Linked DNA regions of Homo sapiens: region 1 is linked to region 2. The links come from fine-mapping of genetic effects on gene expression. A gene starts in region 2. The other region holds a variant in brackets. All regions are shown on one strand. Distances are from middle to middle.

Evidence for each region. PIP is the estimated chance that this variant, and not a neighbour inherited with it, causes the effect. A credible set is the group of variants that fine-mapping cannot tell apart.
Region 1: its variant is the best candidate, but not a certain one, in a credible set for the expression of LRPPRC in esophagus mucosa (GTEx, PIP 0.74).

The regions. Positions count from the first base shown.
Region 1 is chr2:43,898,291-43,902,685 of GRCh38, reverse strand. It overlaps LRPPRC (leucine rich pentatricopeptide repeat containing), which reads left to right. Exons shown (of 38, transcript NM_133259.4): 32 at 1,162-1,366; 33 at 3,081-3,220; 34 at 3,352-3,467. Among named protein-coding and RNA genes, the nearest start is that of ABCG8, 62 kb to the right of the region's middle. RefSeq lists an enhancer at 4,022-4,316. The variant A/G (reference allele first, on the strand shown) is at 2,334.
Region 2 is chr2:43,993,662-43,998,056 of GRCh38, reverse strand. LRPPRC (leucine rich pentatricopeptide repeat containing) reads left to right here and starts at 2,068. Exons shown (of 38, transcript NM_133259.4): 1 at 2,068-2,258. The coding sequence starts at 2,110. RefSeq lists enhancers at 1,791-2,070, 1,866-2,517 and a silencer at 2,171-2,490.

The sequences.
Region 1 (4,395 bases), 95 kb after region 2:
CTATATGTGCATGTGTATTTTTAAATTTTTATTGACTATGCTTTTTAACCTGTTTTTCTTTTTTCTCATTTGAGAATGAGTGGTTTAAGATTGTAGATTTCAAATAATCATAAATTCTTTATTCATTAATGAACACTAAATTCATCATGTCTTTCCACTGTATTTTGAGTACACTTCAATTAATACACTTTCCCCATTTTTCTGTAAAACTAAGCTGTTCTTAGTTGGAAAGCTGTTTGGAGAGTCTTAGTTTTGTCTAAGTTACATTGCTTTAGTTGCTATAAAGCTATTAAGTTTTCTTCGATAATGGTAGGGGTGATTGTTAGGCTACTCCTCAGTCTACCACTTTATTTCATATCATGATTTTGCTACAGTTTTATGAGTCAGTTAGCTAGAAGGCTATTCCATAGTTATTTATAATCAAGTACTTGAAAGTGTGATACTTCAAAAAAACATACAAACAAAACTCCATTGATTATACTGATGCTCCTCAACTTACCGATGGGGCTAAGTCGGGATAAAGTTGAAAATGCATTAACTACCCCATAAACCCATCGTAAGTCAGGGACTGTCTGTATTTGTGGAAATCAGTAGGCATTATTTTTTAATTTAGTGCAGGAAAATAATCACAAGGCATCTAATCATAAAATAAATTTGTTGGTGTTAAAGTTCAATGTTTCAGTTTGGAACATTGATCCTAGAGGATCAATGTTTTTAGTGTTTTTGAGAAAGAATTGTTGGGATATTAAGTTTTGATGATCATTTAATCTTCGAGTTAAAATCTGGACAAGTATGAACATGGATAGAAGTCACACATTTTTGGAAACTCTAGAAAATCTTTCTTATTTGTATTCATTTGAACTTACCAACTTTAGTCACTGAATGTTATCCCTAAATGGAACTCATATTGTCGGTAACATTTGTATTTTCTCTGTGACTTAAAGAAGAAATTCCTCGGGCCTCTAATATCTTATATAGTCAAGTAAATAATTTTTGGGGGTATCTCATGAAGTATTAATAATTTTCTGTAATCTAAAATTAATTATTCATAGCTTTTTGTTTATGGCCATTTGGTGCTCATATTTAAAAGCTGGTTTTCAAAATGCATTAAAGTCAGCACAGGTCATATAAGAAAAGCCATCTCCTGCTCTTGTATTTTAGAGGCTGTGACAACACTGAAAACAGTATTGGATCAGCAGCAGACCCCTTCTAGGTTAGCAGTGACCCGTGTCATCCAGGCATTGGCCATGAAGGGTGATGTTGAAAACATAGAAGTAGTTCAGAAGATGTTAAATGGACTCGAAGACTCCATTGGACTTTCAAAAATGGTTTTCATCAATAACATTGCTTTGGCTCAAATAAAGAAGTGAGTATTTGCAAGCCTTCTTTTCCTTCATTGGTCACTAGAATGGGCATTGCCTCAGATACCACCTTTTAAAAACTTTTTTAGACATGTGGAAACCTTATCAACTGCAGAGGAAATGTTGATGCTAGTTGCTGATTAGGGAATAATTATATGTTGAAAAATATGTTTTTTCTTTACCTTAAATCTTAGAATAAACAGCATTTACCAAATTCATAAATCTTGCTCCACAGTTGATAACCTTTCTCATTCCTGTGTATATATGCCAGGCCTCTTGTTGTCGAAACACTTTGTTCAGAAGTGAAAAATGATCTCATTTGTTTGTCAGTAATATTTGATAGGGACACTAGTAGAATATTGTGAAGCAGAAGGCCCCGCAAGCTTATTAAAAATGTGCATTTCCGTATTCATATTCCTTACCCACCCCGTGAACACTCTCCCACCCCCACAAAAAGGGAGGTATTTAGAGCTGATTTTCTTACCACTGTCTCTAGATTCCTTTTGAGAATTACCCCTGTAGAAATAAATAAGGACTTGATTTTTAATAAGCTCCCTAGCAAAGTACTTTATGGAATTTGATACTTTCAGTATGCTTTTAGAAAAAATGTTCTTTAGTAATCTTGCATACATTTAATGGGACATGATATTAAAATATAATGTTTGTTTTTGTAGGGGTTTTTTTTTGTTTGTTTGAGAAACAGTTGTGTTTTGTTTTGACCTTTTCAAACTATTTCGCCAGATAGAACTTCCCTTTAATAAGAAAATGTGATTGTTTTACATTAGAAGATTGAAGAAATTACTCATCTAAGAACTGGGTGAATTTTAAAGTTTTACCACATAAACACAGTTTTATATGATTCGGAGAACATATTCACTATTAAGTAATTCCTTAAAACTTGTAAGAGAAATATATTGTAACAGTATTCATTTTTAGTTAGAGAATTATGTTTAATATAATAATTTCAACACA[A/G]TATTGACTGATTGGATTTAGTATGCCATATGGTAACAGTAAAGTATCCATTATAGATTACCTTAACCAAAAAGATAGTCATAGAGATAATTTTTACCATAACTTGCTAAATAAGACCATGTAACTGATTTTTTTCAATGTAAAGTGTGAAGATACTTTTTCCTGAGATTTTTAGTATAAACTGAGTATTTTCCAAATGTATAATACCTGACAAAAAGAAATTGAGGCGACCATAAGTTAGAGACATGCATATATGCCTTTTGAAACATCATCAGTATCTTTAAGAATCCTGAGATGTTAAATACTATTTTTATGCAGTAGTGACAAGTTGTGGATCATAAAGCCAAAATTGTAGCATTTATACAAGTTTTCATTTTATATCCAAAGAGTGGCAAAAATTAAGTTAAATATTTAAGATACAGAATTTTAAAAGTTATCTTCATTAATTCTCCTGTATATAGTTGTTTGATCTTGTCTGTAGAGCATTGTTAAAACAAGCAACTATTTGAACTGCTGTGAAGCAAAATAAACAACCACTGCAGCACGAACCAGCTAGTGAATGTTTTTGCTACTTAAATGTGATTCAGGGTTTCAGTTGCCTAGTGTTTATTTGGTTAAGTGTAAATGTATTTCATTTTTTTCCTAAAGTATTAGCATGAGTGGATATAAAAGTAAGTTCTTAGACTAAACTGCCTGTAATATTAACATAAAAGCAAATTTTTAAGTAATTTATTTTGCTTTTAACAGTAATAACATAGATGCCGCAATAGAAAACATTGAAAATATGCTTACTTCAGAGAATAAAGTCATTGAACCCCAATACTTCGGCTTGGCATACTTATTCAGAAAAGTAATAGAGGAGCAGTTGGAACCAGCAGTTGAAAAGAGTAAGTTAGTTGTTTGTGCTAAAGAACACACAAGCACATTTTCTCTCTAGTGAGACTAGACCAAATTTCTTTGGTAGGTGAGTTATACCACTGTTCTAATGAAAGATTTTTCTTACCTGTCATTTTTCCAGTAAGCATCATGGCGGAGAGATTGGCCAATCAGTTTGCAATTTATAAACCTGTCACTGATTTTTTCCTTCAACTTGTGGATGCAGGCAAGGTGGATGATGCCAGAGCTCTCCTACAGGTAATGACCCTCCACTCATGGAGCAGTGGGGCTCGAGGCTTGCAAGAAGTAAATTGAGAAATTACTAGACATAGGCGTGTGGTGGAATACTAGAAATTCAGTGTGGTGTGCAGCTAGCTTGTTTACATTCAGTGTGAATCACGGTTGCAGGACAAGGACTGGATGGTAGATTTTAGGTTACTGGTTTTAAAGATGCCAGATCAAACTAGAAATGTCTTTAGAATTGAGGTAGCGGGGAGCGGCGGGTGGTGCGGGGGTAGGTATGGGGCAGCGAGTTTCGCTGAAATGATTAAAGACAAATCTTTCTGTGCAGATAGATAATGCAAAACAACAATTCCTTTGATTTTCTACTTTAATTTCTCAAATGCGCTAGATACTGTGCGTCACCATGGCAACACAGTTTGCAAACAAAAAGTAGGAAATGTTTGCTTTTCAAGTACAGCTTCTCACTTGAATACTCAAACATTCTCAGTGCCTTATTCAAGGTTTATTAAGAGTTGAATATGCTTTCTATTCACTTGTGTGTCACAGACACATTAAATGACAAATGCAGGTCTCTGTGGCCCGCACTCTCAGTTAAATTAGCAACCTTCAGGGAAGGAGACAACTGCATTCATGCCATTTTAACAGCACTAAATATAAAGCTATGCCAAGTGCCGACAGAACAGTGGGTGATCCTAGCTGCCACTGGCAATGTACACAAACAGGCACCGCCGGGGAGCCCCTTCCCAGCAGGTGGCAGTCAAACAGTCACCGTGATCCCGCCAACGGCTGTGTTTGTGTAGACTCCCTGTGTCAAATTGAGGCGTGGGACCAATTTCTGATCGTAAATAGTATTATATTCCCTTACATTTTTACCAGCTGTGAAAGATCTTAAGTAGTAGATAGGGAAGGTAAAACTACCCATGTGCTTGACCTCCAGTTTTTA
Region 2 (4,395 bases):
CTGTTCAACGTTTTTCCTATTTAAAATATCAACTCTCCGGGCGTCGTGGCTCATGTCTGTAATCCCAGCACTTTGGGAGACGAGGCAGGCAGATTGCTTGAGGCCATGAGTTTGAGACCAGCCTGGGCAACACGGCAAAAACCCGTATCTACTAAAAATACAAAAATTAGCCAGGGCTTGGGCCTGTAATCCCGGCTACTCAGGAGGCTGAGGTGGGAGGATCGCTTGAGCCCAGACGTCGAGGCTGCAGTGAGCCAAGATCGTGCCATTGCTCTCCAGCCTGGGTGACAGAGCAAGACCCTGTCTTGAGAAAAAAAAAAAAAAAGCAACTCCCCCCATGACACCCTCAATCCCTTTACCCTGGCGTATTTTGCATCACAGTTCTTTTTGTCTTCCCAAATTAAACTTTAAAGAGCTTAATTAGAATCTAGGGTTGGTTTGTTTTGTTCTCTGCTGTATTCCTAGGATTTCAAATAGTGTATGGCACTGGATATGTATTCAATAAATACGTGTTGAATAGGTGAATAACTTGTATTCCCAGTGCTCAGTAATATAACCCAGAGTCAATCAATTCACCTTGTTTCTTTTGGGGGCTTGGAGCGGGTGTCTTCGTTCCCTCATCTCTCAAAGGAGAGGTGAGCTAGGTCATCTCAAAATAGACATTAATTTAACACATATTTAATGAGACCTACTGTGTGTCTGGCACTGGGTAGGTGTATGGCCTACAATAAGAGATCACAGTCCCTACTGATAAGGAGTTCGTGGGATTAACTGATAAGGAGTCCAGTGGGATAAACAGTCACTTCGGAAATGACCGTGGGAGGGCTTCCAGAGGAAATACCCGCCGCGTTTGCCTCGTGATAGGTAGGGGACAGGCAGGTGTAGAGGGAGTGGAAGGCTGTTCTCAGCTTCCCACGTGTGCACAGGGAACCGATCCAGTCTGTAAGCCCTGTGAAGGCAGCGACGTGGTTTTTTTGTTTTGTTTTAGACAGAGTCTCGCTGTGTCACCCAGGCTGGAGTGCAATGGCGCCATCTTGGCTCACTGCAACCTCCACCTCTCGGGTTCAAGCAATTCTCCTGCCTCAGCCTCCCGAGTAGCTGAGATTACAGGCGCCCGCCACCACGCCCGGCTAATTTTTTGTATTTTTAGTACAGATGGGGTTTCACCATGTTGGCCAGGCTGGTCTCCAACTCCTGACCTCAGGTGATCCACCCGCCTCGGCCTTCCAAAGTGATGGGATTACAGGCGTGAGCCACTTCGCCAGCGATGGGTTTAACTTGCCAGTTTTCTCCCCATATTTGGCTGGAGACTCTTAATTACATTGTTCTTTTACTTCTCACATGTATATGTGCATTTACTGAAGGGAGAGGCGCGGTAGGGGTGGAGGGTTGGGGAAGAGAGTCAGTTCAATTCCAGCTTTAAAACTATAGGATTTTTGGTAGAATTCATTTATTTTCTAAAGCGAGGCCCCGCGTACGCGCTTAGGGTGGGGACCTGCGCGTTCCTTTACACTGTTCCCAGGCCCTGATAATCCACATCCTATCATGTTGAACCTGGGAGGCAAACGGCAAGGTGCAAAAGACCTCCACGGTTTCTCCGGCCCGCGTTTCTGAGAGTGAAGGGCCGTTCCTATTGGACATGGCGTCAGGGCTGAACGTTAGCAGCAACATCTGCACTCGGGGGCGGGGGAAACCTTCCCACGTCCTGGGATCTTCATAGTCGGCTCTCCTCGAGAGTTCTCGGTATTTTTACTAGTTGGCCTCCCACAAGCCTCTGCGCCAACCTGGGAGGAGTTGACCTCTTGCGGCTCTACCAACAGAGGAGTGCAGGGGTGCAGCGAATGAACACGATGCCCAGATCGGAGACGGAAGACGGAAAAGAAAAGCTTCGATAATGAATCAAGCAACATCGTTTATGTAAATATTACATTGGGTCTTCTGTCCTCGGAGAAGTGCGGTTTTCCATCTTCCAACCTAAAACAATCCGTCGCTCCCCCCACATTTGGCACGCCCGGCAGTTGGTCTCTGCCGCGCCAGGCTACCCTGCGGTCACATGCTCCTCCTGTCCTTCTGGCGGAGCGTGCTTCCCGCTGCGGGGACGTTCGAGCAATGGCAGCCCTGCTGAGATCCGCGCGTTGGTTGCTGCGTGCCGGGGCGGCCCCGCGCCTCCCGCTCTCCCTGCGCCTCCTCCCTGGCGGCCCGGGCCGGCTGCATGCCGCCTCCTATCTGCCCGCCGCTCGCGCCGGGCCCGTGGCCGGGTGAGTGCCCAGGCCCTTTCTCCAGGCAAGCTGCGGCGCCAGGGTCCCCCGGGGTCGTGGGTGCCGGCAGGGACCGGGTCCTGCCTGTGCTCGCCACCCTTCTCCCCGCCCCAGGACCTAGCCTCCCCGGGCTCCGCACCACGCTCCCTACCAGGGGTTTTCGGGTGACAGGGTTAAGCGCCTTCAGAAGGTCACGGCTGTGGGCATGGCCTGCCTCCGGCTTGAATCCTGCCCCCGCCACTTCAGCCTGGACCTTACTGCCCTCGGGGTACCCATGGTCAACGAAGATGAGGGGGGCTTTGAAGACTGCTTTGGGAAGTCGGGTGGTGGTCTTTTCCTTACACTTGGCCAGCTTGGGTGGTGTCCCACGTGCGGTCACCGTTGGTGATCAGTAACCACCTAGCATTTAGATATTGGAAATTTAGCTTTTTGCGAGGGATGGGGCGGCGAGGAGTGGGTTGGGAGTTTGGGTGAGCCACGGATGACTTAAAGCTGGACGCTGGATTATGATCACTTTGGGCTTTTGCCTGCGTTCTCTTGAATGGAGTTTTCCTTCAGCATTTAAGAAGGTGTTGCGCGAGTTGGGCTGGAGTGCAGTGGCGCGATCTCAGCTCACTGCAACTTCCGCTTCCCGGGTTCAAGCGATTCTCCTGCCTCAGCCTCCCGAGTAGCTGGGATTACAGGTGTGCGCCACCATGCCAGGCTAACTTTTGTACTTTTAGTAGAGACTGGGTTTCACCATGTTGGCCACGCTAGTCTCGAACTCCTGACTTCAAGCGATCCTCCTGCCTCGGCCTCCCAAAGTGCTGGGATTACAGGTGTGAGCCACCGCTCCCGTCCTGTAAGTGTCTTTGAATGAATGAGCACATGCAAGGCACTCTGTTGGAATCTGGGGATGCAAAGGCAAGTTAAACTCTAAGTGGGTGTCAGATAGGCGAATAAATGCTCTCATGGTTTGAGGTTTATCAGAGATAGGTTTGGTATAGACTTTTGTAGTGGAGGGGAAAAGAAAAGTTGGTGAAAGTGTTCATTTGGTTATTAATAGTATTCTGACCACCAGAGAAGGGGAGATAGGTGCTGAGCTTTTAGCATTGGAGAAAAAATGATTTTGAAAGACTGATGCTTGTAAATTAAGGTACTTTGAGAGCTCGCGTAAGGACTGAGAGCCAGGGATCTGCAGTAGGCTGGGCCCAGACTGCAGCCTACTCCAGATTTATCTGCATTTTATCCTCAAATTATCTGCATTATGCCATTAGAGAAGTTACTTAACATCTCCAGGCCTCAGCTTCCTTAGCTATAAGGTGGGAGTAGTAGTAGTGTTAGGAATATTGCAGAATTATCTGTATTAAGCACTTAGTATAGGGCCTGATGCCTAGTAAGTGCTTTGTTGGTTACTACAGGAGTCATAATATCTACGGTTATGCGGACCTTCATGGACCAGCCTGAACACCTAATCTCGCCATAAAATTACGTGGAGGAAATAATTTATGATTTCTTAACAACTTAGTTATAATCTTTGGAATGGAGCGTACTTGTAATTTGGAGTCTGCCTATATTTTCTTATTGGGCTTGAACAGTTAACTTTCCGAAATCATGCCTCTGAGCACAGAACTATATACATCTCTTGGCTTTCAGAGTTTCTTTTGAGAAAGTTGTGCCCATTACTCTTATTTTTCTAATCCTCAGCATTTCTGTGAGGCCAGGGGAAGGTCCACATTTTCTTTTATCTTCACTGTTGCATTTGAGGAGAACTGAATAAAGAGAGAACATAGTTTAGTAGAAAGGGTGGTCTCGGTGTTCATCAGACCTGGGTTCTGTTTACTTACTGCGTAATCTCAGCCATCTTACTAACCTGTCTGTTCCTCAGTTTCATTATCTGTAAAGGCCTTTCCCCCTTATCTTTGTAAAGTTGCTTTCTTATCATTCAGATCTCAAATGTCTCTTCAGGGAAGCCTTACCTCAACACTCAATCCAAAACATGCCGGTCCCACTGTAGATTTATTCGTGGCACACCTCACTTGTCTGATATCATTACTTATTTCTCTGGTTTTTTTTTTTTTCTTTAGTAGAAGGTAAGCTATATGAGAGCAGGACTTTGTCTTGTTCACCACTGTGTGTTCAGGTGACAGCAGGCAAT